Linked DNA regions of Homo sapiens: all the other regions are linked to region 3. The links come from fine-mapping of genetic effects on gene expression. A gene starts in region 3. Each other region holds a variant in brackets. All regions are shown on one strand. Distances are between the middles of the regions.

What was found.
Region 1: its variant is fine-mapped to the expression of SLC60A1 in thyroid (GTEx, PIP 0.97).
Region 2: its variant is fine-mapped to the expression of SLC60A1 in tibial artery (GTEx, PIP 0.96).

Annotation. Positions count from the first base shown.
Region 1 is chr1:205,601,990-205,610,170 of GRCh38, reverse strand. SLC60A1 (solute carrier family 60 member 1) reads right to left here. Exons shown (of 10, transcript NM_181644.5): 10 at 7,253-8,181. ELK4 (ETS transcription factor ELK4) reads left to right here. Exons shown (of 5, transcript NM_001973.4): 5 at 1-2,228. Among named protein-coding and RNA genes, the nearest start is that of ELK4, 26 kb to the left of the region's middle. The variant A/G (reference allele first, on the strand shown) is at 4,244.
Region 2 is chr1:205,628,986-205,637,166 of GRCh38, reverse strand. It overlaps ELK4 (ETS transcription factor ELK4), which reads left to right and starts at 5,156. Exons shown (of 5, transcript NM_001973.4): 1 at 5,156-5,535. RefSeq lists enhancers at 4,769-5,078, 5,689-6,108, 8,112-8,181 and silencers at 5,249-5,398, 5,489-5,678. The variant C/G (reference allele first, on the strand shown) is at 4,831.
Region 3 is chr1:205,564,842-205,573,022 of GRCh38, reverse strand. It overlaps SLC60A1 (solute carrier family 60 member 1), which reads right to left and starts at 4,009. Exons shown (of 10, transcript NM_181644.5): 1 at 3,724-4,009. The coding sequence starts at 3,953. It overlaps SLC60A1-AS1 (SLC60A1 antisense RNA 1), which reads left to right and starts at 3,718. Exons shown (of 4, transcript NR_152721.1): 1 at 3,718-3,894. It also overlaps the pseudogene RNU2-19P. RefSeq lists enhancers at 2,630-3,178, 3,179-3,728.

The DNA.
Region 1 (8,181 bases), 37 kb before region 3:
GGAGGTGGGGGTTTCCTGTGGCTGGCCCAGAGTTCTAGCCAATGGAATCATTCAAGAATGCCTAAAGTTCAGGGGTGGGAATGCCATATATTGGTGTTAATCACTTGGCACTTTCTTGGGCACCAATATTAGCACTGTTTCATTTTTAATAACTGGAAGCACTTAATGATTATTTTGTTTGTTTAATTTCAACTTAAGGATATTGAGGGTCAGAGAAGTAAGGTTTATTTCTTGTTTATGTTTTCTGGAATTTATAGGGTGTTTGTAGAAGGGATAAATGGGTTACCTAATGAGCCATTCTTCTAGGCTCTGTAAGGTATGCCCTTTTGGCTAGGATATTTTAAAATAATTTGCAAGCTTTTAATATTGTGCTTTGTAGAAATTTACGATTTTTAAAAATAATTTGCAATTGATAGATTACACTTAAATTTATAAAGTATCCAATTTTAAGTTTCTTTTCTGTTTGGTCATTGTTGCTTATTGTCTATTGTGTAGGGGACACAATCCTGACATTTCATTGTTTTGTTACTTGGGGCAGTATTAACCAGTGGCCTTTGTATGTACATTCATTGCTTACATTTATTGTTTAAGTGGTAGAGTAGCATTTTTATGAACTTCCCTGTTCAGTATTAGTGAAATTGACAGATGCGTATATGTAAAGATAGAAAAGAAACGAATACAATTAATTTTTTATTCCTTGAGGCCTATTTATTTGTTTTGGCCCTGGATCTTTTCTAATCACAATTATATTTCTTTATTTTTGCCTTTGAGCAGTTTCATTTATCTTTGTGGGCAGGGAAGATTAAATATGAAATTCAGTCCAGTCATTTTGCTACTGGTTAGCTTTAGTTTGAGGCAAGTAAAAATTTTTGATTAAAATTAGTTTCTTAAAATTATGCCCTTGCTTTACCAAATAATCAAATTGGCTAAAAAATAAGGGTATGTAACTTTGCATTTTGAAGAACAAACCAATAATTTTTCATGAGCCCTACTCGATCTTCTTTAAAGAAGACCTTCCTAAGAGACAATTAGGGATGAGTTTGATTAATGGGAAATAGCTCTAGGTTAGATTATTTTAAATTCCATACACCAAGTGATTTAACCACAGTGGCAGTGGCAGTTTCTGAACCGTCAAGTATGAACATCACTTAAAAATTAAAAGATGCTTAATAATAAACTCTTAATTTTCATTAAGCCAATCTGTAATTCAGAAGAAAAGCATATGTCTGCCATGGGACTATTGCAGTGCGTCTCCATCAGTGTTAACACAGGAGAGATATGTTATTTTATGTGTATGTCTTAGTTTGGGATATGTGGTAGTAAGAACATGTCAAGAGTGCTTTCTTCAAACCTGTCAGCTCAACTGAGAAGACAGTTACTTCATTGCTTATTTTTTCCCTTGTTTTATTGAAATCTGTATCTCATATCCAGTATCTAACACTTTGTAGAGATACTTACATATAATGTAAGTGCACACCTACCCAGAGGAATGGATAACTGTTAAAGTGTTAATAATAGCTCGTCTTAGTTGATTTCAGCATAATTTACATTAGGGAGACCTAAAAAGCACCTTCAAAGTATTAAAAGCACCTTTTTTTTTTCTTTTTCCTAAAAAAGCAATTAAAATGGTCACTGCTAACATTTATTAAACTTCATGTTAGTTGATGAAACAGCTGGAGGGAAGCTGCCACATCTCCTAGCTAAGCAGTCTGACTTACCTGTTGGGAAACAAAGGGATATTGCTCTAAGATTGATTAGGATGATTGTAGCTAGAGTCTTGAATTCTATCTGTATACGGCAGAGAAACTTTATAGAGTGTAGAGAGGTGAGCGAAAGGATGCAAAAGCACTTTGAGGGCTTTATAATAATATGCTGCTTGAAAAAAAAAATGTGTAGTTGATACTCAGTGCATCTCCAGACATAGTAAGGGGTTGCTCTGACCAATCAGGTGATCATTTTTTCTATCACTTCCCAGGTTTTATGCAAAAATTTTGTTAAATTCTATAATGGTGATATGCATCTTTTAGGAAAGATATACATTTTTAAAAATCTATTTTATGTAAGAACTGACAGAGGAATTTGCTTTGTATAATGCAGGCTGGCTTTACAAAAGCACTGTAGCAAATTTACTACAAGTCTAAAAGTATACATATATGTTAATAGATATATGTGCAACTAGATATGGACAGCAGTTGTATTTTTTTAAATAAATATTTTTAACAAAATGATTTTCTGAATTGATTATTTATTCCCTTCTCTCACATTCATTGAGGTGGTCTCTTTACAGTCTCTGTATTACATTTTCATCCATGCTAACTGTGGGTCAGGAAAGAGTTGTTTTCCCAATGGCTATCATTAAAATCTGGCCTTCAACAATTTGATATGTATCTACATTAAAATATTTAAAGTCTAGATTCAGATAGGTGGTGAACAGGGGAGATTGTAAAATGATTGTTGACATAAAAGGAATTAAGAGAGAACTGAGTGGCTAGAAAAAATATTCACCATGTGAAATCTCTTTTTGTTTTACTTGAAAAATAAAGGGTTTTTAAAAATTTAATCAGCTGGGTGCAGTGGCTCACACCTGTAATGCCAGCACTTTGGGAAGCCAAGGCAGGTGGATCACCTGAGGTCAGGAGTTTGAGACCAGCCTGGCCAACATGGTGAAACCCTGTTTCTACTAAAAATCCTCCCAAAATTAGCTGGACGTGGTGGGGTGTGCCTGTAGTCCCAGCTACTCGGGAGGCTGAAGCAGAAGAATCGCTTGAATCCGGGAGGCAGAGGTTGCAGTGAGCTGAGATCACACCACTGCACTGGTGTGATCATGGGTGACAGAGCAAGATCCTATCTCAAAAAAAAAGAAAAAAAAATCAGAGGCTTTTATCTAGCCCTTGTAAAAAGCAATGTAGACTTCACTTAGCAAATGAAATTAGGCTTTTTTAGAATTGGGTCAAAATAATATACATAAGGGAAAGTGGGTTGTTTTGTTTTGAGACAGAGTTTTGCTCTTGTTGCCCAGGCTGGAGTGCAATGGTGCGATCTCGGCTCACTGCGACCTCTGCCTCCTGGGTTGAAGCGATTCTCCTGCCTCAGCCTCCCGAGTAGCTGGGATTACAGGCATGCGCCACCACACCCGGCTAATTTTGTATTTTTAGTAGAGACGGGTTTTCTCCGTGTTGGTCAGGCTGGTCTGGAACTCCTGACCTCAGGTGGTCCGCCCGCTTTGGCCTCGCAAAGTGCTGGGATTACAGGCATGAGCCACTGTAACCAGCCCAAAAGTGGGGTTTATAGGTGGCAAAATGACAGCAGAGAGCTGTTTTCGTATCTCTTAATGAAAATCACAGGAGGATAGAGTGACAGATTGTTCTGGGGCAAAGGGGGCAGTTCACTACCCTGGTGAAATGGGTGAAATGTCACTTTGGTTGGTGGGTCAGTCAGCATGTGGAGCACAGTGAGGACTACTGCATGCTCCTAACACACTGCTCTCAGAGTATCAACTGCGACGGTAGTCCCACGAGGTAAAATCAGTTTGGGAAATGGGTTCTTCACGGAAATTCAAAAGGAAATTTCAGAATATGAAAAGTGCCAAGTCCTTCAGTTAAAAAGCCTGTTTAGGCTGGGCGTGGTGGCTTATGCCTGTAATCCCAGCACTTTGGGAGGCCGAGGCAGGTGGATCACGAGATCAGGAGATCGAGACCATCCTGGCTAACACGGTGAAACCCCGTCTCTACTAAAAATACAAAAAATTAGCTGGGCGTGGTGGCGGGCGCCTGGAGTCCCAGCTGCTTGGGAGGCTGAGGCAGGAGAATGGCGTGAACCCAGGAGGTGGAGCTTGCAGTGAGCTGAGATCATGGCACTGCACTCCAGCCTGGGCGATAGAGCGAGACTCCATCTCAAACAAAAAAAAGCCTGTTTAAGTCACCACCGTTTTCTAACCTTTCTGACTGTTGACACTTATTTTGAGAAGCCTACCTGTTTTGCAAGCACTTTCTGTGTTTTATAGGTGCGTTTAATGACAAACTAATACCCTAATATTGGGTAATTTTCCAGGGTTGGCATTATCAGGTAGGAGATAATAATTAACAGTTAGATGATTTCACATTGATTGTTGCTACAAAACACTGTACTAACTGGACGACCGACCCCCTGTAACTGCAGGGAGTCTATGAAAGTGACTTCATTTTATTAAATGAAACAGGAGTGGGCCGGGCGCAGTGGCTCACGCCTGTAATCCCAGCACTTT[A/G]GGAGGCTGAGGCAGGTAGATCACCGGAGGTCAGGAGTTAGAGACTAGCCTGACCAACAGGTGAAACCCTGTCTCTACTAAAAATACAAAATTAGCTGGGTGTGGTGGCGCGTGCCTGTAATCCCAGCTACTAGGGAGGCTGAAACAGGAGAATCGCTTGAACCCGGGAGGCGGAGGTTGCAGTGAGCCAAGATCACGCCATTGCACTCCAGCCTGGGCAATGAGAGTGAAACTCCGTCTCAAAAAAAAAAAAAAAAGCGCAAACTCAAACAGCTGTGCCAGTCAGCTGACAAGCATTGGTGTTAAGGAGTCCATTGGATGGTTCCCATGTTTTTTGTTTTGTTTTGGGGTCAACCGTGCTGTCACCCAGTCTGAAGTGCAGTGGCACAGTCATGGCTCACTGCAGCCTCAAACTTCAGGGCTCAAATGATCCTCCCACCTTGGCTTCCCAAAGCACTGAGATTACAGGCATGAGCCACCACCATATGTTTTGAATATGTCACCATAATTAACCAAAACTATCTTCTTTGGTCAAGGTCATATTGCCTTACATGTTGCCACATCTGGTGGTTGACATTCGGTGTTCATTGGACCTCTTGGCAGCACTGATTACTTAACTCCTTCTTGAGATGCACTTCATGTGCCCTCCAGGAAACCACATTTTCTCCTGAACTTCCTATTTCTCTGGCTTTTCTCATGTGCGCTGCTGGGACTTGTTCTTTTTCTAAAACTCTAGATGTTGAAGAATCCCAGGGCTCAATCTGTCCATCTCTACATTCATTCCCTAGCTTGTGTCATTTTAGTCCTATGACTTTAAATACTTCTTTATGTGACCACAAAATTTGTATCTTCAGCTTTGACTTCTCTTTTAAACTCTAGACTTCTATATCTAACAGCCTTCTTGACATCCAAGATTGCATCATAAGATGATCATGTCCAAAATAGAACTCAGAATGTCTCCCCATGGCCTTCCAGAGTTAAATGGCTTCATCATGTACCCAGTTACTTAGGTCAGATTCCTTCAGGTCATCGTTGATTCTTTTTTGTTTGTTTTTTTGAGACGGAGTTTCACTCTTGTCACCCAGGCTGGTGTGCAGTGGCGTGATCTCACTTCACTGCAACCTCTGCCTCCCAGGTTCAACCGATTCTCCTGCCTCAGCCTCCCGAGTAGTTGGGATTACAGGCACCTGCCACCACACCCAGCTAATTTTTGTATTTTTAGTAGAGACAGGGTTTTGCCATGTTAGCCAGTCTGGTCTCGAACTCCTGACCTCAGGTGATCCATCTGCCTTGGCCTCCCAAAGTGCTGGGATTACAGGCGTGAGCCACCGTTCCCGGCCCATCCTTGATTCTTATCTTTCTCACACTACACCCAATCCATCAGCAAATTGTCAGTTTCACCTTCAAAATATTGCTTGAATCCAATCACTTTCACCACTTCCGTTGCTATCTACATTTCCAAGCCACCATTATTTCTTCAGTCTATTGCAGTGGTACCCAGGTGGTCTTCCCAATTCCATGCTTGCCCCATAGTCTCTTTTCCATAGTAACCAGTGATACTTTAGATATGTAAATCAGATCGTGTCGCTTGCCTGCTCACAACTCTTCCAGTCATCTTACATCACTCCAAAAAACCTCTACACATACCATGGCTTGTATGATCTGGCCTCTAGCAACCACTCCCACTTGTTCCGTTTGACTCTTCCTCACTGCAGTTGAGCCACACCAGCCTACTTGCTGTTCCTCCAATACCATAAGCATATTCCAGCCTAAGGCTCTTGTACTTGCTGTGCCCCCTGCCTGATGGGATGTTTTCACGTACTTGGATAGCTTGGTCCCACGTATCATTTAGTTTTCTACACAAATAGGACCTCCTTAGAAACGCCTTCCAGAGCATCTTTTTTTTTTTTTTTTTTTTTTTTGAGACAGAGCCTCACCCTGTCACCCAGGCTGGAGTGCAGTGGCACAATCTCAGCTTACTGTAACCTCCACCTCCCAGGTTCAAGCAATTCTCCCACCTCAGCCTCCCCAGTAGCTGGGATTACAGATTACAGGTGTGCACCACCAGGCCCAGCTAAATTTTGTATTTTTAGTAGAGACAGGATTTTGCCATGTTGGCCAGGCTGGTCTTGAACTCCTGATCTCAGGTGATCCGCCTGCCTCAGCCTCCCAAAGTGTTGGGATTACAGGTGTGAGCCACTGTGCCTGGCCCTAGAGCATCTCTTGACATTCCCTATTCCCATTCCATACTCCCTGTATGTTTCTTTATGGTGCTACATTACCCCTCACCCTGTGGCATTCCCATATCCTATTCCATATTCCCTGTATGTATGTTTCTCTATGGTGCTACATTACCCCTCACCCTGTGGCATGTTACGTGTAGTATTTGTTTGCTGTCTGTATGTCTTCACCTGCGGTATAATCCTTGTGAGGCAGGGACTTCTGTCTCAGTCACCACTGTATGTCTGTACCTAGATTAGTGCCTTGAACATAGCAGGTGCTTAACAAATCCTTTTTGACTGAATAAACGAAATTCACTCTAAAAGAACTCTATGTCACTGTGTCTTCTTTTAGTGAATCCGATGTGCCTGATGGGTTAGATTTCCATATACAAGTAGCAGAGGAAAATCTGGGAACAGGGTGATTCCACAGGATTCTGAAATGTCCAAATTCCTGAAAGGAAGATGAGGAAGAAAGTCCTACTTGTGTAACTGAGAAGCGTGTGGTGTAAGAATCGACCTGCCTTTTCCTTATTCCTTATTCTGATTTTATGTAATAGGGAATAGTGGCACTTAGCCCTGCTATGAGAGGTTATTTATTTATTTATTTATTTATCTTTTTTTAAAAAAATTCAGAGTTTCCCTTGTGAGACAGTTTTCTTTCTTCTAAAATATAAGCCACATTAACTTATTAGTATGAGAGAGACCTGCCTCTGGGGAACATCAGACCATTTGTTTCTGAGTGTATGCAAGAGGATCAATTGTTCTTCATAATGGATAACACACTTAATAAGTTTAAATATTTTATTTTAGGAAAGGTACTCTTAGATTTGTGTTAATGTTGTTTTCTGTATTAACAAATTAGTCACAATCAACTTCGATATAGCCATTGATTCTTCTTTCTAAATCTGTATAAAAAGGATATTTTCTTGAAAAACCACAAGAAAAATACAACTGCTTTTTCATTGCCCAGGTCAGTTACTCGCTACAGTCAGACTGCATTTAAATTAGACTGGCATCTAATACTTTTGAGTATTTACAAATATAATTAAAACTATACTCCTAGACCACCAGCTTTCAAAAAAGTTGGATCTGCTTGACTTGCAATAAATATGTACCAAACATGAATAATTTCTAAGCCGCTTATGAGGAGGTTTTAAAAATTACTAACATTTATTAAGCAGTTTGTGTGTCAGGCATATTGTGAGTGCTTTGCTTTATACAAATTCACTTACTTTTTTCAGAATTCCTTTGAGGTAGGGTAGGTACTTTTAGAAATGCCATTTTACATGTGAAAAGTGAGGTTGGAAGAGCCTCAGTAACCTGCCCAGGGCCACACAGCTAGAAGGTGAGCCAGCACTTGAGCCACGTTTCTCTTTCCAGCCAGATTCTCAGCACTCAGCTGTGCTGCTGGTGGTCACAGCTGGCTGACTGGACCAGGAAGAACCTTTTAGTGTCAGGCGTGTGAATCACAGCACTTGGGACAGGTTACCAAGAACCATGATCACTTAATTTTTATATTTATACATGTACATTTGTATATACATAGAGAAAGTGCAGGCAAAACCATTATACAGTTACTCTAATAGCCATTTGCTACTGCCAGCAGTCTCAGGACTGATCCCTGTCTAAGCTGGCAAGTTTACATTCTCCTTGTATCACTACAGGATTTGCTCTGGACAGGAGCTGTAACTCCTCAACAAATCCTGCTTTCAGTCT
Region 2 (8,181 bases), 64 kb before region 3:
GTAGCTGTGTCACACTCCTGAGTTGTGTACACGACTCACAAGCCAAATTTTCTAGCACAGCAGAACAATTTTGTTTTGCTGCTGGATATATAAAGCAAGGAAAAAAAAAAGATGGCATTCCATCTTTTTGAATTAGCACCAAGTCTTTCAAACTCCACCCTTTCCAGGAAATGTTCTTTAATGCAGTGGGAGGTGGTAATTTTACTCTCTCCAAACCCTCATTTTACTTCCCTCACAACACAAAACCCTGCTCAGAGCTGCACTTATATCTTCGTTTGTCAGCCTGACTGCCTCTCCCATCATTTCTGAATCCTTAGCTGAATTCTTTGTTCATGTCAACGGGATAGCAAAAGAATTCTGAAAATGCTGGAAGTCGTGGACAGCAATGATGGTCGCTGAGGGTGTCAGTGTTGCCAATTCAAGACTCAGAATTCCTAGAAGAGCAAATGCTCTTTGAGTTTCTTCTGTAATAACAGCATAGTATCATATATTGGTGCTTCCTTAATTAACTTTAATTGAAGAAGTTTTTTTTCCAGACAGTGATTATAAAATACACCAGAGAGGAAAAATTATTTTGGCTTAAAATTCAGAGCAATATGTATTCTGCAAGGAGCTGGTCCAAACACCAGAATCTTAAACAATTATACAAAAGGCAGATTTCATGAGCTTTTATCAATTAAGGAACACCTTTTCCAAAGGTGGCTCACGCCTGTAATCCCAACACTTTGGGAGGTCAAGGTGGGCAGATCACCTGAGGTCAGGAGTTTGAGACCAGCCTGGCCAACATGGCGAAACCCCGTCTCTACTAAATACACAAAGATTAGCAAGGCATGGTGGCACACGCCTGTAATCCCAGCTACTCAGGTGCCTGAGGCAGGAGAATCGCTTGAACCCGGCAGGCAGAGGTTGCAGTAAGTCGAGATCCCATCACTGCACTCCAGCCTGGGTGACAGAGTGAGATTTTGTCTCAAAAAAAAATTGATATATTCTCTCTTCTTTCTCTATTACATATTCCATATCAATTTTTATAAGTCTAGAAATAATACATTTATCAAAGACCAATAAAATTACTTGAGGTTAAAAATATTAAAAGAAAATAAGTAGACTGGGTGTAGAGATCAAGAATGAAAATTATATGAAGCTATTTTCTGACCTGTGTTTGTGACAGGTCATCAAACATATTAGACAGTTGCTATGCCTCAGGCGGTAATTGCAATAACTCATGTCTCGTCATGTCCTCTCTGAAAAAACAATGTATTGTGTGGAGATTACAGCTAGTCCTGAAAGATGTTGCCATGAGTTTACTTCACAGTCTAGAGGCCACAAGTACCTTGTTCAATGACCTTCAGATTGGGTTTTCTCCGGACCCTTAATACCCTCTGATTAAAAGCCTTATTATTGGGGATGAAACGTTTACTGGTTATATTTGGTAAAGTTTAGGACCTTAACAGGTAGTAGGGGTTGCCAGTGCTGCCAGATTCAATATACAGCTAGCCAGAGTTTTCTTTTCAAAGATAACTTTACCTCTATCTAAGATCTCAGTCCACACAAATATAACAGCAATAGGGCTATTTACCAAGAGTTCAAAGCATCATTTGATCAACCGCTTTTTTTTTTTTTTTTTTTTTGAGACGCAGTTTCGCTCCTGTCACCCAGGCTGGAGTGCAGTGGCACGGTATCAGCTCACTGAAACCCTCACCTCCCGGGTTCAAGCCATTCTCCTGCCTCAGCCTCCTGAGTAGCTGGGATTACAGGTGCCTGCCACCACACCTGGCTAATTTTTTTGGTATTTTAACAGAGATGGGGTTTCACCATGTTGGCCAGGCTGGTCTTGAACTCCTGACCTCAGGTGATCTACCTGCCTCAGCCCCCCAAAGTGCTGGGATTACAGGTGTGAGCCACCACAACCAGCCTACTGCCTTTTTCTTTTAGTCTATCCATTACAGACATGAAGTGAAAGGTATGTCTCTTTTATTTCTAAAGATGTTGAAAGTGAAACCCAGAAAGGGTAAGTCGCAAGGATTTTCTCAGGAGGTTCAAGTTTTGAGTTTAGGGAGACCCAAAGGCTAGAACCCAGATATCCCAGATTTTTATTCTTTCTTCTCAGTCATGTTGCAATTTGCTCCACACTTGTCCCCACCTGGGGTTGTGGGTGCTGTCTTTGACTTAAAAGATATCTCTTCTTAATGTCACGTGCTACAGGATATTGCTTGAAAGACGTAACAGGCAACTGGATGGCTCCATGCTTGCTTAGTCAGTCAAAAATCCGTGAAACACTTCTTTAGGAAAAAGGGATAGTGACTGGGAGTAATGATGAAGCAGTGAAATAAAGAGAGGGAAGAGGAAGTTGCCTTGAGAAGTAATGATCATAACTAGGTGTTATTGGGATAGGAAATGTAATTAAATTAGGGGCAAGGGGTTGCAGAGCTGAGTTAACTGCAGTGATTAAGAAAAAAAATCTAGGCCAGGCCCGGTGGCTCACATCTGTAATCCCAACACTTTGGGAGGCCAAGGCAGGCGGATCACGAGGTTAGGAGTTTGAGACCAGCCTGGCCAACACGGTGAAACCCCGTCTCTACTAAAAATACCAAAATTAGCTGGGCGTGGTGGTGCACACTTATAGTCCCAGCTACTCAGGAGGCTGAGGCAGAAGAATCGCTTGAACCCGGGAAGCGGAGGTTGCAGTGAGCCGAGATTGTGCCACTGTAACTCTAGCATGGGTGACTGTGTGAGATTCTGTCTCAAAAAAAAAAACAAAAAACAAAAAACAAAAAACAAAATCTAGGGCAGGCCAGGTAGAAAATACATATTTAAACATTTTAAGCCAGGCGTGATGGGTCACGCCTGTAATCCCAGCACTTTGGGAGGCCGAGGCGGGCGGATCACCTGAGGTCAGGAGTTCGAGACCAGCCTGACCAACACGGAGAAACTCCATTTCTACTAAAAATACAAAAAAATTTAGCCGGGCATGGTGGCGCATGCCTGTAATCCCACCTACTTGGGAGGCTGAGGAAGGAGGCTCGCTTGAACCCGGGAGGCGGAGGTTGCGGTGAGCCGAGATTGCGCCATTGCACTCCAGCCTGGGCAAGAAGAGCGAAACTCTGTCTCAAAAAAATAAATAAACATTGTAATAAAATCTACAAATTTTCTTTGGGATGGCTCTGAGTAACTAAGGCTAAGATCAGGAATCCATCTATCTGGTGGGAAAGTGACCAAACAAGATAACGAAAAAGCAGTCTTTTTGGTTGACCAACGTAACTACCATGGAGTTTGCACAAACAGAACCATCTGTTGTGTGAGGAACCATGGAGAGAGATTGTGTATTTATAGAATCTTGAGTGGGAAAACCAGGCACATTAATTAACTTTTCCCCTCAAGTTCTCTAATTAGAAATCCACTTTTCTTCCTTTCTCTTCTGTCAATATGTACCGCCTTAAAAAAAAGTCAATTTAAAAGCAGACAGATTTGCTATGACTAATTTAAGAACTCCCAAAGCAGGCTGTTTTCCAAAAATACACTGCAATTGACAATGCCGTAAGCTCAGTCTAAAAGGGATATGACACAACTACTGGCCCTAAGGCCGAATCAGATGTTTACTGCCAGTTTGAACAGAGCAGCGTAGTGTGCAGATCTCCACAACCCTTAACTGTTCTTGGTAGGGGGCTTTAAAATGAAATCTTTTTATAAACAAATGTTTCCAATAGGTGTATCCTAAACAGCCTACCTTAATACTTTTTTTTTTCTTGGTTTCCAAGATGGAACTTGTTGCAAGGAAAATTTTATGTTAGGGGCCAAGACTGCTAGTGCTTTTCAGATACTGCATGTTCCTTATAAAACATGTCTTAATATGTTTGCATGCTTTGGTAAAACTAATTTTGGAAAGGTAACATCTTTTGGTAGAGTTGTTTTTACAGGAATAGCTACCTTTGTGGATTATAATTACTCTGTATTATGGAAGAGGAGGCTGGAAATCAAGGAAGTGATGATTCTCTTCCAAAAGCCTACAAAAGGATGACAGAATCACATTTCACTCAGTGAGTTCAATTAACTATACATTCAATTGTGGGGGCAAAAATAAATGACACCACGATTTACTGGGTATCTACTATGTGCTAGGTAATGCACTAAGTACATTATGCTCTATACTTCATTTAATCCTCTCAGCAATGCTGCTCATTATCGTCATTTTACATGAGGAAACTGAGGTCCAGAAAGGTTAAGCAACTCACTACAGGTCACACAGCTAGTAAATGGCCTCGAATAACCAGTAACTCAGACACTGACCTCTCTTTGGTTTCTTGTTAAACAAACACCTAATTTATTTCTTGGAGGTTTTGTTCAGCTGTCCTAATTTATGACTTTACATTCCTTCTGGTGCTAAACTGCTCAAGTAGCCTCTTGTATCAAGTGTGACCTGATTCCTTAAGAATTTTACTTAATGAGAACCTCTAAGCTAGAAACTCTTGCTAGGTGTTTCATGCACCTTATTTTCTTTAATCATTACAACAACTCTAAGATTGGGTTCTCTCCACCTTATAAATGATGACTGTTTTAGAGAGGTTAAGGTTGCTTAAAATTGGTGAGTTAGTGAGGGGTAGAGCCACGAATGGATTTCTGGTCGCTGCCTCCATCGTCAGGGCAAGCTTTTCCCACGACTCCAGCGCTTCCATTTGTCAGTCCCCAGGCTAGAAAGCCACAGTGCTAATTTAGTATTTATCAAGCGTTTGTAGTGTCCTGGGATCTGGCACTTCGATGAGAAAGCTGTGACGGCCCCAACTTCTAACAGCGAGTGGTAAGGAGGACGAGGGACACAGGAGGGAGGAGACTCTC[C/G]CCAAAGCTTAGCACCAACAGAAGTGGTCCCCCGCAGGTTGCTCTGCGAGCGCCACCTCTTCCCTCCAACCGAGGAGAAAGTGGCGCGCCTTTGAGGAGTCCGAGGTCCCGGCCCAGGCGGCAGCTTGGGTCCTGGCGGGTTCCGGACGGGCGCCTCAGGGACCTGGAAGCAACCGCACCGAACGCGACGGAGAGCGGCGAGACGACTCCAGGAGGCGCCCGAGCTACATCCCCCGGCCACACCAAACCCGGGTTTGCTGGCAGACGCGGCTCACGACACCCCTTAGGGTCGCAGCCCCTCCCCCGGAAGTGACGTGTAGCGACTACGGCGTCTGGGAGGGACCCAGGAGCAGTCGGGGGGTTTGAGAGTGGCGGCGGCCGCGGAGGGCCTGGCAGGCCCCGCCGCTGCAAGGAACGCCCCGAACGCGCGCGCCCGGCGTGTAGCGGCCCCAAGACCCGCGCCGCCGCTGCCGCGTGCGGGGGCGGGGAGGGCGGGGCGCCAGGAGCCGCGGCGGCGGGAGATGCGGGCGGCTGCGGGCACCCGGCGGGCTCGGCTTGGCCGCCGCCGCCTTCTACGGCTCCGCCGCGGGGGTCGCAGCGGCTGCCGCGCCGTCCTCGAGTTTCCAGCGTGAGGAGGAGGCTGAGGGCGGAGAGGCGCATCGTGTTCGAGGCGGAGACCGAGGGGGAGCCCCGCGCGCGGCGTCGGTGAGCGGTCAGCCCCGCGCGCCCCCTCGGGATCTCGCGGCCACAGCCCCACCGGCCGGGAGCGGGGGCGGGGGCCGAGGGGCGCGCGGCACAACAGGAAGTGGGGGCGGGGGCCGGGGCCGGGCGCGCGCGCTCCCCTTGGGTCCGCCCCCGGCCCGCCGGGCACCGCGGCGCACAGGTGGACGCCGCAGCGCACCGCTCAGCTCTCGTCGCCTCTTGGTCCCCCGAAGTCTCGTGGGCGAAAGGTGGCGGCGATTTTTTCGGCGTGGATGGGGAGGAGGGGAGCAATTCTCATTTTCTGTAGTGACAGGAAGTTGGAAAATGAAAGTACAGTAATTCAGTGCTTACCAAGGCCCGGTGAGGTTGCACCTCTTCCCCCAGACTTTGATCTCCTGTAGGGCACACGCGGCCGTCCGCGTTTCTTCCTCTCCCCTAGCTCGCTAGTCATCCGGTGTCGAGTTTCATTTCTTTTTCTCTTTCGCTCCAGCGGCCCCCCGCCCCTCTTTACTTTCCGCCTTGTGCACAGCTGCATCGAGGCTGGTAACTTCATTCCTGGGAAGATCAATTGGAAACATCTTTCGGGGCGGGATAGTAACTGGCCTTGGAAGGAAATAGGGATGTTGTTGACTGAAGTAGTCAAAAGTACACACTTCACTTTTTCTCCAGCTATTGCTATTTGAAATTTGGGGAATTTAAATAAAGATTCTGGAGTTCTATGCCTCATCAGAATGGTTTGTCCATCTCTTTGGTTGATAGATCAGATCCTCTGTCGTCTTTTCCCACCCCCTACACCCCCTGGCTTGGAAAACTTGGTGCTTCAATATTTAGGTTTGGCAGCGGTGTTTTCATTAAAATGTAGTATGATTCAATATTTTCCCTTCAGGAACACTCTTCTCTTTGATTTTACTTAAACATTAAAACTGCGTAAGTGGAATCTGTTCATTCCTAGTGAGGTAGTGTCTTTAAGTTTTATTGTAAGAATATTGTAAGAACTGTGCAGGATCCTATACAAAGAGTATTTTTTAGGAGCCTGTGTAGTTAAAAACGTCATGTTACTTTTGGTTACTTTTTGACAACGGTGAGTATTTTGATTCGAAACTAGGCTTGATACATTCATAACTTGGTTTTTTAAGTAGCAGGCTGAAGAAAATTTGGAGACTTTGTGTTTTTTTGGGTCTTAGCTACTGTCTCTGAAAAATAGTTGGGCTATGGGTCACCACAGCAACTGGACTGTGTGTATTATAAACATGTTTAGGGTGGAAAAGGTTTTATTTAATAGAGACTTCCTTTCCTTAATACATTACTTCAACATGCTCCCTTTCAATTTAGGACAGGGATTGGTCTATCTTTGAAGTGTTAAAATAGAATCAATTATGTTTTCAGCCTTTACCCCCTCAAAAATCAAATACCTTCATTTGGACCAGTTAAGTGTTTTCTTCCTTTGTTATAACTTTAAACTTTAAAAATTGCAATTGTGGAAAACTCGGGATTCCTGTAAGAAGGAAAATCAAGTAATTAGCCTCTTTTTTTTTTTTGATAGGTAACAAGAATAAAAGGTTTTGTTTGGTTTTGTTTTGTTGTGTTTTTGTTTTTGTTAGAGACAAGGTCTCACTCTGTTGCCCAGGCTGGAGTGCAGTGATGTGGTGTCTGCTCACTGCAACCTCCATCTCCCGGCCATTCTCCCACCTCAGCCTCCCGAGTAGTCACGCACTACCATACCCGGCTAATTTTTTGTATTTTTGGTAAAGACAGGGTTTCAACATGTTGCCTAGGCCAGTCGTGAACTCCTGAGCTCAAGCTCCCCCCTTGGCCTCCCAAAGTGCTGGGATTACAGGCATGAAGCAACCACATAATTTTTAATAACTGTCTTAGGGGATTTTTTTTCTTTAGCTTTTATTTTATTTATTTATTTTTTGAGACAGGGTCTTGCTCTGTCGCCCAGGATGGAGTGCAGTGGTGTGATTTCAGCTCACTGTGACCTCCGCCTCCTGGGTTCAAATGATTCTTCTGCCTCAGCCTCCCTAGTAGCTGGAATTACAGGTGCCCACCACCACGCCCAGGTAATTTTTGTATTTTTAATAGAAACGGGGTTTCACCATGTTGGCCAGGCTGGTCTAGAACCCCTGACCTCAAGCGATTTGGTCTCCCAAAGTGCTGGGATGGTAGGCGTATGCCACTGTGCCCGGCCAGCTCTCTTTTATATCTGATGAAATCATTGAAGATCATTGTTAATACCACACTTTTTGAAACTAAAATGAAGAGTTTTGACTTAACTATGTAAGAAGACGTTGGCTGCTTTTCAATCAAAAGAATAACGATATCATAATTGAATTAATAAAATATTCCTTTAAAGTACCCAGTGAAAATGTCCACTTTATATCTTTTTCTCAAAATTCATTTCTAATACTTCAGTCTAAAACCTCAAAGCCATTTTTTTCTTTTCTTTTTTTTTTTTTTTTTTGAGACGTAGTCTTGCTCTGTTGCCCAGGCTGGAGTGCAGTGGCACGATCTCGGCTCACTGCAAGCTCCGCCTCTCGGGTTCACGCCATTCTGCCTCAGCCTGCCGAGTAGCTGGGACTACAGGCACCCGCCACCACGCCTGGCTAATTGTTTGTATTTTTAATAGACACGGGGGTTTCACCTTGT
Region 3 (8,181 bases):
TCAGGTAGCTGGAACAACAAGGCATCCACCACCACACCTGGCTGGATAAACCACGTTTTTGTTTGTCCATCCATCCGCTGATGGACATTTGGTTTGTTTCTACTTTTTGACTCGGATGAATAATGCTGCTATGAACATCCACGTACAGGTTTAGTGTGTGGACATACATTTTCAATTCTTTGGGGATCATACCTGGGAGTTGGGACCCTATGATAGCCCCATGTTGAGACTGATTTTTAAAACAAGGACAATGTCTGGTACTGGACGCTCAGTAGGCTTTTGGCACAGGTTTGTTGCATGCTGACTGGTAGACAAGGTGCTGGAGGGAGAGGCAGAGGCTTTCTGGATGGGAGACCAACCACAGCCCAGCTCAAGGGGAGAAGCTGGTTTGTCCTGTGTTCCAGGGACTGGAGGGGGCCAGCATATCTAGGGGTGGCCTGGGCAACTGGTGTATGGAAGACAGGGTTTGGTGCAATGGCCAGGAGGGAGTCATAGCTAGGTCTGGGGCAGGGTAGGACTTGCAGATTAGGAGGAATTTGAGGGGGAAAAAAGGAACAAAAAGAGAAAAGTGAATAGGTCAAAGAGAGGAAGAACTCAACAGATCCTCTGACAAACCCTCTGTTAAGAAAGCATGGGCAGGGGAGAGGCCAAGGTGAGGCTGGGAGAAGCCTGGGGAAGCTCTGAAAGTTGTTTACCTATGCTGACGCCTTCGAGATAAAGGGGTCTCCTAATTCCCTAGGGCGGTTAGACAGATCCCCAAGAAACCAGGAAAAATCCTAACCTTTAATCTAAATACCCCTTCCCCTTTCCTGCCTGACAAAGCACACACCTACACACCCTTGCCAACCAGGTGGCTTTTTGTTTTTCTCTGAGAGAGTGAGCAAGCTGGTGCTGCCCTGAGCTCAAGTCTTCCCCTGCACCCACTCCAATAGCCAAGGCTCTCCACCTTCCACACGTAGTCCTCCCAAAGCACATCCCTATGGAGGCATCCACAAGCCCCATTCTGCCTGTGCCCTCAGTCTGGGCCCAGCAGTAGGCAGGACCTGAGTAGGAACCCACGAGAAAGACACTGCCCCCAACTATCCTCTCCCATGTGTCATCCTAAACTTTCCCCCACTCCCCCGCAACAGCTGGCTCTCACAGATTTGTTAAAGCAATCCCCCACTCACAAGTATAAACCAAGTGAGAGCGTTAGCTGGTAATCACTTAAGCTGCAAAGCACTTGCTTGCAGGGGTATTGCATTTTAACTGAGACATGGTCCCACAGAATCCAGCTTTAAAGCTTTGTTGCAGGGCTGGTGGAGCTTCTGGCTGGGGGGATGGGAGACTGTGATGAGAGCTGCCCAGAGTCAGCAAGGTGGTGGGAGACTGTCGCCTACACTCAAGGCCACCCCTGGACATCCCTCTGTTTCCACTGTATATCTGCTTTGCTCTTAACCAAAGGAAAGAGTTCTTCATGGCATTTTGTCTTGGGGGTGGGAGGACTGAGGTTCAGAATTTAAACCTCAACCACTGATAGGATCTACCCCACCCCAAAAAGATCCCAGCAGGAAGCCCCAGAGGGCCACCATTACATTCCCAGAAGTTGTCAGAGCTCAGGAATACCCAGCCCATGAGCATCCTTAGGGCTACTCATCCCAAACCTGTGCCTGATCTGCAGAGTTTACACTGATGACTCACAAAGCAAGAGGGATTGCCTAAGTATCTGTCTTAGAGACAACACCTGGGTTCAAATTCTGTCTAGGCCTCTTCTTAACAACCATGTGATGTGGGCCAAGTTTCTTAACCTCTCTGTGCCTCCACTTCCTTATGCATAAAATGGAGATAACAGTACTACTTCGCAAGGTGGTTGTGAAGATTAAATGGGCTGATACATGTGAAGTACTATGAATAGTGCCTGGCACACAGTAAGTGCAGAATAAAGTTAGTTATCATTGTTACCATGATTTTTTTTCTCTTCTGTGAGCCAGTTCCTGCTGCAGGGTTCTCTCTGCTGCCTGTTCAGAGCCCCCTGTTGGGTAAGCAGTGCTGAGGAAGATACAAAACTACCCAGGAAGAGATGGCCCAGCTGGGTGGGTGTGCATCTCTGCTGGCTTCACAAACCCTGCCCTGCCAACCTGTCATTTCAAATTATCCTCCTTCCCCTCCGTGTTCTTTGCACTACATATTTTCTTTAAAAGTTCCAGGTAAAGGAGCTTTTGTAAGTCAAAGTACTTAAAACCAAAAAACCTGTGCTAGCCACAGATACTTTATCTTAGTTTCTAATTAAACCTCTAGGCAGAATGAATCTTGAGCTTGTCCTTAAGATTTTCTGAATCTTCTGTATATTCCAATCCTGTACCACACCCACAAAACACTGGTGTACACAAGGAGACTTGCTTTTTAAGAAGAGAATAATTTGGTTTACAAGAAGATTTGGGGAAAATGGGGATAATCGCTTCCAAAATTGGTCATGTTTTTAAGGCTTAAAGTGGGGTCCATCTGTACTGACACCTGTGCTCCTTCCACCAGCTCTGGAAGCAAGGTGGATGGAAACACCTGCCCTCACGAACACCTGTAGGCGTTAAGCCAAAGGGCATGACCACAGCCCAGAACGGCCCCTCCAGAGGTTTCTCTGGGATAGCCCAACTGCGGTTTTTTCTCCAGGCCGGCTGCTTGCTCGACTGAGTCCATGGGATCTAGGAAACCACTCAGCCAGGAGCTGGGACTGGGGAAATCAAGCAGCAGCCTCTGGCTTGCAAGTCATCTATTCCCTATTCTATTATGGGTCTCTGTTTTCCATGCTGCACTGGGAGAGTGAATCTGGCTGTCTTTCCACAAGGGAGCCCGGAGGTGGCCCTGTCCAATTTAAGCCGAGAGAATAAGGCTCTGCAATAGTGTCAAAGGGGGATTTCTGGGGGTGGTGCCAGGGAGAGTCCAGAGCCCTGTCGTGGGGCAGAGGCCCAGCAGGAGTAGGATGAGGTGGGTGGGGAGTGGAGGGGAACCTTGGCACCAGGGCTGGAGAGTCACCTTACCAAGCTATGGGTAAAGTGCCCTGCCCCTCCCAACCTGGCCTTAACGGTGAGGTCCTGTGTGTCTCGGGGGCCCATGCAGGAACCATGTTCTGGCTGCCTCAGGAGGAGGGCTACACAGAACCCACTAAACCCCGTGGCTACCCGGGGGAAGGGACAGCCTGTGTTAGCTGATGTGGAGCTGCCTACAGTGGAGCCTGGCCCTGGGAATCAGTCAAGCCGCAGGCCACCTCCAGCACCCTGCACCGCCACAGAGCTGGCCCTCCCACGGTCCTTCCACCTCACTGCCAATCCCGCCCCCGGCAGCCGGGGCTACTGACAAACCCCAGAGGAGCTGTGTAAGAGGGGCACCCTCCCCACCTCTGCAAACTCTATCACTCCTCTCCCCACGGGGCGGTGGGTGGGGGAAGCAGGTGGGAACTGGTTTTATCCTCTCACAGGGATGAGTGATGACAAATAAATAAGCCAGAAGTCACCTTCAGTCTCTGGAGAGAGTTTTCCAGGGAGAGCTGCGGGGGAGGGAGGGAGGGAGGGAGGCAGCTCTTCGGCCAAGATGGAGCTGGGAGGGGTGGTCGCGGCCGGGAGGCGGGGGCGACGGGCAGCCCCACGGGGCCGGGGGAGAGGCCGGGTCGCGGGGCGGGAGGGAAGGGTCGGCCCGGCGAGGGTGGGTGCCGGGGGCCGCGGGGCGGGGGCGCACGGGCGCGGCACTCACGTCCTTTTGAAGACGCCCCCGAGGGCGCTGCCCAGCAGGAGGCAGAGCTGCTGCGAGAAGAAGACCCAGGAGATCTGGGGCAGCGAGCTGTGCGTCTGACAGCGCAGGTCCAGCAGCGTGGGCCCCAGGAAGGCGATGCACAGGCCGAAGCTGAAGAAGACGCTCCAGTAGGTGAGCGTGGGCTGCAGGTTGCGGCGGAGCAGCCCCGACACGCGGCCGTCGCAGCCCATGGCGCAGGCTGACGGGCTCGCGGATCTGGTCCCGGCGAGCCCGGTGCCCGAGTGCCGCCCGCGGGAGGGCCGGCCGGGCTGGGGAGGCCCGCGGCGGGGAGGGAGGGGCGGGGAGGGGCCGCCCCAGCGAGGGGCCCCGCCCTTGGGCCCGGGCGGCGGCGGGGGCGCCTCTGCGGCGGGTGGGCAGTGCGTCCGCTCCCGCGCCTTCCCCGTGCGGTGCCAGGCGCCGGCCTCCCCCTCCTACCCGAGCGCACATGCTCGCCCTCCCCCGGCTGCGGAGACCAACCGGGAGCCGCGCTGCCCCCCGCCCGCTCTCCCTCGACCAGTCCCCCCAGCCTCCGGATGCAGCCCCCAGGGACCGAGCGCCCATTTTAGAGCCCGGCAGATGGAGAGCCCGAGACATCCTGTATCTCCGGATAAGGCTAGGGGCCCTCTCCCCGCACCCGGGCTGTGGCAGTGGAGGAAACCCGGACCCCTTTAAACCTAGGCGCTTCACAGATGGACTTCGAGGGTCTAACGGCACCCCCCTTTCCCCCAGAACAGAAGGCAAAATCTTGTTGTACATATGTTTCTCCTTGGGAGAGTATTCGTGCATGGCTTTCATTAGAACCCCAAGAGGTTAATCACATTGCCCTTTAGAAGGAGAACCCTAGAAACTCAACATCTTCCTCACACTAAGCTCCCTGGAAGGGCCTGAGATGAGGCCCTCCTCCCCACCTGGCCAGGTGCGGGAAGGAGGAGGATGACGCTGGTCTATGCTGACTCTCTCTCTCTCCTTCTAACTAGTTGGAGGAGGGCAGAGAGGGAAGGGCCGCGTCCTGGAGGAACCCCGGGAGGAATTCTGAAATAATCTCCTAGAAAAAAAAATTTAAAAAGAGTTCTGGGGAAAATTCTTTCTTCCATGGATAAATCCCTGGCAGTGAGTAGGGGTTGATTATTCTCTAGACTGGGTGTCCTTCGAGGAGCCTGCAGCTGACCTAGGCTGTCCCTTCATTAGGTGGCCTCGGGCTGGCTGGTGGGTTCTGTGTGTTCCCGCTCCTAAGGGAGCCAGGATCTGGCCCCTGGAGGCAGAACAGTAAGGCCCTGCGGTGTCCCCTCTGCCCAGGTCTTCTGGTAATGACAGGAGCCATGACATCATTTCCACTGGCCCACCAGGGGGACCAGGGCTGAAAAGACTGAGGAGGTATGTGGGCGGGTGTCCCCAAGACAACTTGGCATGAGGTGGGGCAACCAATTTCTCTTGCAGGTACTGGTCCCATCTCATAGCCGCACCCCTGCATCTGCCCTATCCCTTCTTGGACAGTGAGCCCCAGAGAAGGGGGAGCCCCAGGGTCCCTCTGGCTCATCACTCTGTGGGTAATGACAAGTACTTATTCGATAGTGATGATGGGGGGCCTGCACAGTAATTGTAATAAACTGAAAAGCTACCCTCTGGGGGAAAAAAAAAGAAAAAACACCAAACAAATCATAACCACAAGTTTTTGACTGAGTCTTCTCTGCCACTATCACAGAACTCCAGGAACCATAGAAGCTCAGAATTGGAAGGAATAGCCTCCAATTGAGTCCCCTATCCCCTCCCCATAACTGCCTTTGAATGCTTGCCAGTCCTGTTCTTGACTGACACCTCTAGTGCTGGGGACCTTGCATATTCCTAGGGGCTCTGCTTGCAGTGTGGATGAGCTCTGGTTGTAGAAATGGTCTTAGGCAAAATTGAAATGCTTCGCCCTGTAACTGCTCCCCACGGCCCCACACAGAACAAATCTAATTGCTCTGTCATGTAAGTCCTTCACACCCAAAATGACCTTGCCCTAATGATTTTGCTTCTCTAGCCCAAACACCTGAAATCCTTCCATAATTTCCCTAAATGGCGTTCCCCAACTACAGCACCTTGCTGGCTCAGCTCCTCTAGCCACAGTAACAAATGACCCTGCCACAATGAGGTAGCCCCCAGTGCCTGGGATGCTGGAAGCATTCTGAAGCTTGATCTAGGTGGTAGTTACACAGGTGTAAATATATGTAAAAACTTATTGGTCTGTAGATTTAAGATTTGTGCATTTTTGTGTGTAAGTTATACTTGATTAAAATGGTAAAAAGTAAAAATAAAAAGTAAGTAAAAATAAAGGGAGGCATTCCACCGTGAATACAGTACTCAGCCTCTTCATAGTCAAAGACCTATTGGGTTCTGGTACTGTACAAGGTCCTCTGGTTGAGATAAGCAGATATGGAAACAAGTTACAGTTGTCTCTCCATATCCCATATCCCGTGGGGGGATTGGTTCCAGGAGTGCCTGCAGATACCAATATCTGATAAGAACAGATACTACACTTGGTCTTGCCAAAAGGCTGAGAAACGATAGATACCAATATCTGAAGGTGCTCAAGTCCCTGATATAAAATGGCATAGTATTTGCATATAACCTACATCCATAGGCCTGTATACTTTAAATCATCTCTGGATTACTTATAATACCTAATACACTGTAAATGCTATGTAAATAGTTGTTATACTGTATTGTTTAGGGAATAACGACAAGAAAAAAGTCTGTACATGTTCAGTACAGATGAATTTTTTTCCCAAATATTTTCGATTTGCAGTTGGTTGAATTTACAAATGCAGAACCCACAGAGACAGGGGGCCAACTGTGCAGCAGTGAGGTACCTTCTGTAATGGGGTGGTTTGAGGGCCTGGAGAGCTAAGTGTCTAATTCTGCCTGGGAAGGCTTCATGGAAGAGGTGACTTTTGAGTGGGGTCTGAAAGCCAAGTCTATATGTGAAAACGTTTTGCTTATTTTTGCTTTCTTCATCCCTTTCTCTGTCCCTTCTGTTTTCCAGCATCACACACTGTCCACCTCCTCTAGGCATCTTTCCCAGATGAATTAATTCTATTAAATTCTTATTTCCAGCAAGACTCTCATCCACTCCTGTACTGCTACCCTATCTTCACAAGGCCAGGTATTACATTCCACGGACTGTTCCTCCAGCCCCTTACGGGAGCCAGTTAAATCATGAGTTCCTAAGGGCTGGGAGTATATTTACCTGTGTTCTAACTCCACCCCTTCTCATGTGCCTCACATAAAAGAATGCCTTGCAGATAGCAAGTCCTGGACAAATAGCTGGTGAGGTGAATTGTTTGCACAAAAATTATACAATTACTTTTGGCTTTACATTTACATGTCTTATCTCCCACTTACAAGTTCCCCAAGGGCAGACGCTATCCAGTCTTTCCTTTGTGCTGTGTATTCACATGTCTGTTCTTAGTTGGGCACCTTGTGGTTATTCTTAAATTTGAAGGGCAAAACCTTGGATCCTTCTTTAACTACTCTCTGATTTCCCCCCTTATAAATTAGAAGGGAATTATCCCCCACCGTCACAAGCCAAGGAAAGTGATCTGAGACTCCCAAATATGGAAAGGTTACATTAATTGGAATAAAGGATCTGTGGGAGTAAAGGGTTCTCAAGCTCTTGGAGCCTGAAATCTATTAATTGCCTCAAGGGTTGGCTCTCCAGAAGCCTTTTTCTGACCTTCCTAGGCTCCCTCCTTGGGGCTCCCAAACTATCCTAGTGCTGATTCTGTTTAGTGCCGCCCTTCCAAGGCAAGGACCACAGGATTGGTTCATCACTGGGTGCCTGGATTTCTGACTCCTTGGTGAGAGGTGTTTATACTACACTGAACTCTTGTGTTTTTTTTTTTTTTTTGAGACGGAGTCTTGCTCTCTTGCCCAGGCTGGAGTGCAGTGGCATCATCTTGGCTCACTGCAAGCTCCGCCTCCCGGGTTCACGTCATTCTCTTGCCTCAGCCTGCCGAGTAGCTGGGACTACAGGCACCCACCACCACGCTCGGCTAATTTTTTTTGTAGTTTTAGTAGAGACGGGGTTTCACTATGTTAGCCAGGATGGTCTCGATCTCCTGACCTCATGATCTGCCCACCTCGACCTCCCAAAGTGCTGGGATTACAGGCGTGAGCCACCACACCCGGCCTTTTATTTATTCATTTATTATTATTATTATTATTATTATTATTATTATTATTATTATTTGAGATGGAATGTAGCTCTGTCACCCAGGCTGGAGTGCAATGGCGCAATCTCAGCTCACTGCAACCTCTGCCTCCCAGTTTAAAGTGATTCTCTTGCCTCAGCCTTCCAAGTAGCTGGGATTACAGGTGCACGCCACCACACCTGGCTAATTTTTGTATTTTTAGTACAGACAGGGTTTCACCATGTTGGCC